Linked DNA regions of Homo sapiens. The protein of the gene in region 2 purifies or fractionates together with the protein of the main gene of each other region. This does not show direct contact. Each region holds a gene or a part of one and is shown on either strand. Other genes may lie near its edges.

Evidence for each region. Proteins that work in one complex are often made in the same cells at the same time.
Region 1: the proteins of ZHX2 (region 2) and NFYA purify together in Homo sapiens (co-immunoprecipitation; one study listed by IntAct). This does not show direct contact.

What each region holds. Positions count from the first base shown.
Region 1 is NC_000006.12:41,075,866-41,079,520, reverse strand, and holds part of NFYA (nuclear transcription factor Y subunit alpha), read right to left. Parts: intron 493-3,655; 5' UTR 432-492; coding exon 357-431; intron 1-356. UniProt on the Homo sapiens protein: Component of the sequence-specific heterotrimeric transcription factor (NF-Y) which specifically recognizes a 5'-CCAAT-3' box motif found in the promoters of its target genes.
Region 2 is NC_000008.11:122,970,070-122,973,724, forward strand, and holds part of ZHX2 (zinc fingers and homeoboxes protein 2), read left to right. Parts: intron 1-3,172; coding exon of another isoform or gene 3,173-3,199; 3' UTR 3,200-3,655. UniProt on the Homo sapiens protein: Acts as a transcriptional repressor. Represses the promoter activity of the CDC25C gene stimulated by NFYA.

The DNA.
Region 1 (3,655 bases), on a different chromosome or scaffold from region 2:
GTTTGTCTGTTGTGGCCAAAGACTTACTAAATCACAAGTTAGCTCAAACAAGAAGAGAAAAAGACCAAATAGAATCCAGAAAAATTTTAAAGTCCAAATTTCCATCTGAAAACCAGACTAGATGTTTTTACTTAAAATGAGATAAAAGAGGCAATTTACTATAACCAGGCACCCATGAAGAGTAGATTCTAAGTGGTCATGGGCTAGACATGGCATTTCAGCACAAGCCATCAGACCCAATATCTCACAAGATCTGGTATCTTTCAAATAATTCCCCAGGGCAATAGACCAACCAATTGAGTGGTGCTGTTATCAGTTTCATTGCTGTAATGTTTAAAGCAGTTTTGCTTCCATACCTGCTGCTGAATCTGTCCTGCCTGGACAACAATCTGCTCTGTCGAACTATTGCTGTTTGCTGTATACTGCTCCATGGTCCCTCCAAGTGAGATTCCTGTCCACTCTGGAGATCCTAGAAGGCTGTGAGGTACACTCCTGTTAGAAAGGTGGGGAAAGAAACTAAAGTGAGATTGTCAATAAAGGCCTTACCAGACAATTAACCTGGATAATTTATCACTGTACTTTATTTGCAAGAAAACAGGATAGGAGAATAGGAAATGCTTATATTCAGTATCATTTTTAACTGGGATTACATGGCACAATCATAACAACATAATGCTATTTTCACGTTTCTAAAATGCTTTCAGTATACTGGCAACCTTACCTTTCAATACTGTCAGAGCAATACTTGCACCTAAGAGATACTCGTTAAGCTACATCACTTTGATACAAGGCATACCTAACACTGATTTTCAGGTTTGCACATATACTTTAGAGAATAAAGCTTCTTTAAGTTGTAACACGTAATTGCTTCCCACCAAACATGTTACTCAGGTCCACTACATATGGTAGGCAAAATTTACCCTTCTCATAGACTTTAAGAGTTGAAGATCCACTTTTAAAAATAAGGATACAATTAGATAAACTGAATGATATCTGAGAACCTTTAATAAAGACTTCATTAAAAAATTAAAATGATATAAGTTAGCAATCGGCAATTCATCTTGGAAATATGGGAGGGAGGACAGATATATAAACAAAAATGTAGATAGGTCTTTCTCTCTGATTTTTCACTAGGCCCTCATAAATTCCAACATCTGAATAATAAAATGACGTGACCTAACTGAGCTGCTCATTATCGTGGCAAAGTACAGTACCACTCTCCATAAATCCACACATGCTGGTGGAATTAATCATTTGCAAGGTGTCTCAATACAGTGTGAAAGAAGAAACCAAAATATGTGCAACTATATGTCCAAGTACTTAGAAAGAAGTGTATTGATATCTAAAATTTACTTTGAAATGCATCAAAAAATGGATGAATGGGTGGAGAAATATCTGGTAAGGCAATTATAGTAAGATGTTAATAGACCCTAACTGGCAGGTATACAGGTGTTTATTTTCAAATTCCTTTGATTTCACTGCACACTTGAAAATTCTTATTTCTAGAATAAGAATTTTGAGAAATTCTTATTTCCCAAATGAATGTTGGAATGTTAGGAAAAATATAACAAAATTTAATCAAAATAAAAATTAATCAACCCCATTACTCATAACCAAAATGGATACAACATAAGAATCTATGAGCCATAAATAACAGGCTATGTCATCACAGCAAGAGGACTTGTGGCCATATGGTTCTCCAAAGCACTGCCCTTGATCTAATGGAATGCTCGCTAGGTAAATTTCTAGCTATAATTTGGATTTACATATAGATTGGCCAACAGGGAGCAAATATAATCAGCAACATGACAAACCGGTTTTCTGATTTTTACACCAGTCTCTTTGGAATTGGTTGACTAAGTCTGCTCCTCAGAGATTCTGGGTATAGAATAGAAAATCAGGTTTTCAGCCAGACTGTGAGTCTGTTAGGGGCACTAACAGGCTTCCCTAAATTCTATCTTGTCTCTAATACACAATACATTTATGGCTATAAACTAATAAAATTAAGGTTATGATGTAAACGAATATATATGATTCCATTTATATAAAATCTCCAAAAGACATCAGTAATCTAGAGACAGAAAATGGATCAGTGGTTCCTTGGGAGTGGAGAATACAGGGAGACAGGAAAGAGGGAGGTTGACTGGCATGGAGCCTTAGGAACATTGTAGGGTGATGAAAATGTTTTATATCTTCATTGTGGTAGCAGTTGCACAGGTGTACAAATTTGTCAAAACTCATCAAAATACACATTTAAAATTATTATACTTTGTTTCTAAAGTATCTCTCAATAAATTGATTTTAAAAAATAAGGATCATGAAAGGAATGTCTTTTAGGTTTCAACGCCTCCCCAACTCCAAATTTCCTTCTTATATGAGATTTTTTCCTTGACTAATATCCAGAAGTTTACATCTTTACAAGACTAAATATAACTTGAAGCACATAATGACTAATATATGTAACGTACAGATTTTCTTCTTAACTAGTTTATTCTGGTAATACAAATGAACCAATTTAGCAATATTTAAATTTATACTTTGAAGAGTATCAAGATTTGAAGAGCAGCTTCAAATCTAGCAGCAATTCTCTCTCACATTAATGACAGAGTGATTTAGCCTGTATCATGATATTGATACTGTTAATGGTTAATGCTATAAGCAACTGGCTTCAGTAAAGTCATATGTTCCTACTACTGTGAGCTTCAGTTAGCAAGACTGCAATACAATTCGATAGTCTTTCCCAAAGTGCCTCTTTGCCCAAGATTATGACAAACTAAGCCAGATTTAGTCTGTCTAGCTCTTGCTCTTAACACAAAGTTTTGAATGGTTTTTCCTCAAAGAGAGAGAAACAAATAATAAGTGTTTATTCTGGCTAGCATGAAAATTCTCTTCCTAGTGCATTCTCTTCTCAGTGCAATTCTCTTTGCCCCACTATTCCAAGGTGCAAAAGCTGAGACTTAGCCAACCACTTACTAGGAACCCATTCTATGTGGACCTACACAAACTCCAAAGCTAAAACCTCTTCAGAAACTCAACTAGTGTAAGCATATGAAAAGCCATAGGATTATCACAGTTGATAATCACTACCAGGCAAAGCCTAGAACAGTAGCTTTTTAACTTTTTTGACCACAACCCTTAGTAAGAAACACATTTCATTATCACAACTCAGTGCACACATGTATAAAGCATGTAACTGAAATGAAAGTTTCATGAAACAGCATTTACCTTTATACAACACAAGATGCACTTTGGTATTTTCTATTCTTTTTTTTCTTTTAAGAGAGGGGGTCTCCCTATGCTACCCAGGCTGGTCTCAAACTCCTGAGCTCAAAGGATTCTCCCACTTCGGCTTCCCAAAGTGCTGGGATTACAGTCGTGAGCCATCATCATGCCTGGCAGATATTTTCTATTCTATTATTTAAAAATTCCCAGCATTGGCTCACTCAATTTCTTTCACAACTCAACAAGTGGGTCCTGATAGACGCTTGATGAAAGACTAGACTACAACAAAGGGCTGTCCAGCTTCCCCATCATCCTACAGATTTCTGGATTGGAGCTTTCTAATGCACTTCTCTCCACTAATTATGTACCATGTGCCAGACACTGTTCTGAAGGTTTTAAAAATAAAAAGAAATCTCTGACGAAGATTCAAACT
Region 2 (3,655 bases):
CCAGAGGCCATAAGGAAATGCCTGTCCGATGGCCTTGCAGCATCCTCCAGGGCTCTGAGAGGTACTCTAGGATGAGGCACTGGCCCTTTGCTGGGTGACTGTCTCTGACCAGGTAATAGGACTCTGAGAGAAGCCCAGGGGAGTTAGCAAGAGCCACACAGCCCAAAGCACTGCAATGCTCTATAGAACAGCAATCCTGAAATGTGGACTTTGTCACCACCCTTGGGTCACAGCCACTCCTCTGACAGCACTATGCTCACTTTCCATTTTCCATTCATTGACAAATGCCTGTTGAGTATGCTGCATGGGCCAGACTCCACAGGGAGCGGATGGGGGGGTCAGCCTGCTTGCTTTGCACCCTGTCTGTAACCCTGCCAGCAGCCCGTGGGCTCTGTGCAATGGAAGTGAGACTCTGGGAGGTTAAGTAACCAACCTCAGCACGTAGCCAGGAAGTGGCAGATCCTGGATCCCAGCTTTCTCCAACTCCACAGCTCTTTCCACCCCATCCTGCAGTCCTGTGCTGACCCAACGTTCTTTAGCCGGGTTGGGAGAAAGAACATCGGTAGCTGTCTTCCCGCCTTGGGCCTTGTCTCCTAGGATCTGGAAGTGTTCAGGGGGACATCCAATCAGTGGCAGCCTCCCTCCCAAAGGTGGTGGAAGTCCCCATTTGCTGGGGAAAACCCTGTTTCTTGGAAAGCACCGGCAGAGGCTGGCCGTGGGCTACTGTGCCAACCCAGGGAGTGCATGTGGCTCTGCCTGGGATCAGCAATAAGGCTCGTGGTCCTCACTGGGTGCCCCAGCCCCCTACCTTTGAAGCCACCATGCTCTCTTCAATTGCTACCTAGCTCTGTGCATGGAGAGGCTGTGCATGACCTGGACCCAAAATAGGTACAGGGAGGAGCAATTAAGAATCAGGAGGCTCTGAAGTTGGACTGGCCAAGGTGGAGTCGGGCTTCACCACTCACTGGTTACCTAATGTTAAGCACAACATTTAATCTCTCTAAGCCTCCATTTCTTCGCTATGAAGTGGGTCTGCCAATCACCTGCCAGTCACTGTAAGGAGTAGATGAGATGAGCCGTATTACCACTTAGCATGGGGCCTGGTGTGAGAAACTAGCTACTCTCACTGTTGGAGGGAGAGTCATGATCATTCTTGTTTTTGACCATGCCACTGAGCAGGTCCTGGCCTAAGAGAAAGCACTTTTCCTCCTGAGCTTCCTTTTTTTTTTTTTTTTCCTGGTGAAATGAGTGATCTTGACAACATCACCTATAAGGATCCCTGCAGTGTTTACAACTTGGTGACTCTGGCTGGATGACTTTTAGGTAGTCCAGATTCTAAGGTCACCCCTGGAATCTGGTTTTATCTGCAGACTTTTCTTTTATAAATTGGTTTCTTAACTCCAATATTCAATCTTACTCCCAGGAGCATCTAGGGAATGTGGGTGCGTTTAACATCCAGATGTTAGGCATGAATGGCATTATCGATGATCAGCTGATGCCTCTGGCTGAGAAGTCCACTCTCCTTGCTGTTGGCCCCTGTACAAAAAAAAAAAAAAAAAAAAATTCCTTCTCAGGGCTTTCTCAGCCAAACAGCCTTACCAGGAGGGAGGCAAAGAAAAGGCCAGTGGCTCCGAGAACCTACAGATCTGAAAAACTTCTAGCCTGTCATGGAATACTGGCTGTGTCCTCTAGAGACCTGAGCCTTGCTTGGATCCCTTTCCCAGGATCTCTAGATCTTGGGAGGAGACAAAAGTAATGATGGAGACCTGCCCCCATTTCCTCTACCTACCACAAAGTATTGCAAACTGGATGGCTCAAAACAATAGAAGTTTATTGTTTCACAGTTCTGCAGGCCAGAAGACAAAAATCAGGGAGTCTGTGATGGTTGCTTCCTTCTGAAGGCTGTGCAGGAGTCTGTTCTGTGCCCATCTCCCAGCTTCTGGTGTCTGCCGACAGTCTTTTGCATTCCTTAGCTTGTGGATGCATCAGCCCAATATCTGCCTCAATCATCGCATGGTCTCTTCCCTGTGTGTGAGTCTTCACATCTTCCCTCTATGCACATCTGTCTCTGTGTCCAAATTTCCCCCTTCTGTAAGGACACTAGTCATGTTGGATTAGAGTCCACCCTGATGGCCTCATTCTCACTTGATTTAACTGTGTTACCTCTCTAAAGGCATTTCTAATAGGGTAACATTCTGAAGTACTGAGAATCAGGACTTCAATATATACTTTTGGGGGGACACCATTCCACCTATAATAAGGTCCTTGGACTATTTTCATTACTTCCAAGGGTATAAGAATTAAACATTTCTTCCTACTGATTCTTAATAATTCTGTTTATTAAGTGCACGGACTCTAGAGATTACCTGGGTTTGAATCTTGGCTCTGCCACTTACTAGCTGTGTGATCTTGGGAAACTTATTAGGCCCCTATATGTTCAGTTTCCTCAACTGTAAAATAAGAATAATAATAATATTTACACCTCTTAGAATTCATATAAACATTAAATAAAAACACATTTACAATGCCTCATCTTATCACTCTTCTATATCCTACCACGTTTGGAAAAGGCTCCATCTAATAAAAACAGCAGAAGTATCTACAATACTTACCATGTGCCAGGCACTAGTCCAAATACTGTTGTGTACATCAACGCATGGCATCATCGCAGCAACTTTCTAAGGTGGGTGCTAGTGTCATCCCTGTTATACAGAAGCAAAAACTAAGCCCTAGAGTGATCAAGTCCTATAGGTACAGCCCTGCAGCCACTAAGGGGAGAAGTTAGGACCCAAATCCAGATTTGTCTGACTCCAGGGCCTTTTAGGAGCCACTGGGACTGGTTGACTTTCTAGGAATAATAAAAGGGTCTTGTAAGGATGAAAAGAATCACAGGCCACCACCTTCACTTGCCCAGAAAGTCACTCTGTTTTCAAAGGCCTGATTCTGGAGGCTTTTCCTATTATGGCGGACTGTGCTCAGAAAACACACTCGTTTCTTTACAACAGGCCCCGTACATGAAGGGCATGTGTCTCTCTTCCAAGCCCCAGGATGACTTTGGAAGGCCCCCACCCCAACCCAGGAGAGCCAGGAAGAAGCAAACCATGATGCCTTCCCCCCAGGGAACAATGGTCATTTGCCTGACATCTTGACTCTGTGGTTTTGTGTCTTCTAGGGAAGTCTGTTAGAACTGCTGTGCTGATCAACGGGACGCTCCGTCTTTGAAGAAAGAAGAGATGGTCTCTCCCCAGCCATGGGCCACCCTTGCCAGTGACTCCAAGTGGAACTACTTAGCTCGCGTGTGCCTGGAGGGTGCGGGAAGTCCAGCGACTCTCAGACGCACCTCCCAGAGGACCGGTGGGAATTGTTCATAGTGCCAAAGTCCTACTACTGCGTTTTCAATGGGTCCTTGTACATAGTTTGCTCCTCTGCCCTAGCCCTCACCTCTTGCTATACTGGAACCGATTTGTACAATGTGGGAATTTTGTTACCTTTTTAATCAAGGGCAACTTCCTTTTCCAGCACTACCATTGTAAGGTTTTTTTCAGGAGGGAGGGCTAACCACCTTGCTTTTCTCTTTTCTCTTTTTCTTTTTTTTATTTTTGTTTTATTAATTTGGGGAAAGGGGTGTTAGCATTAGTGCCATGATATCTACTGG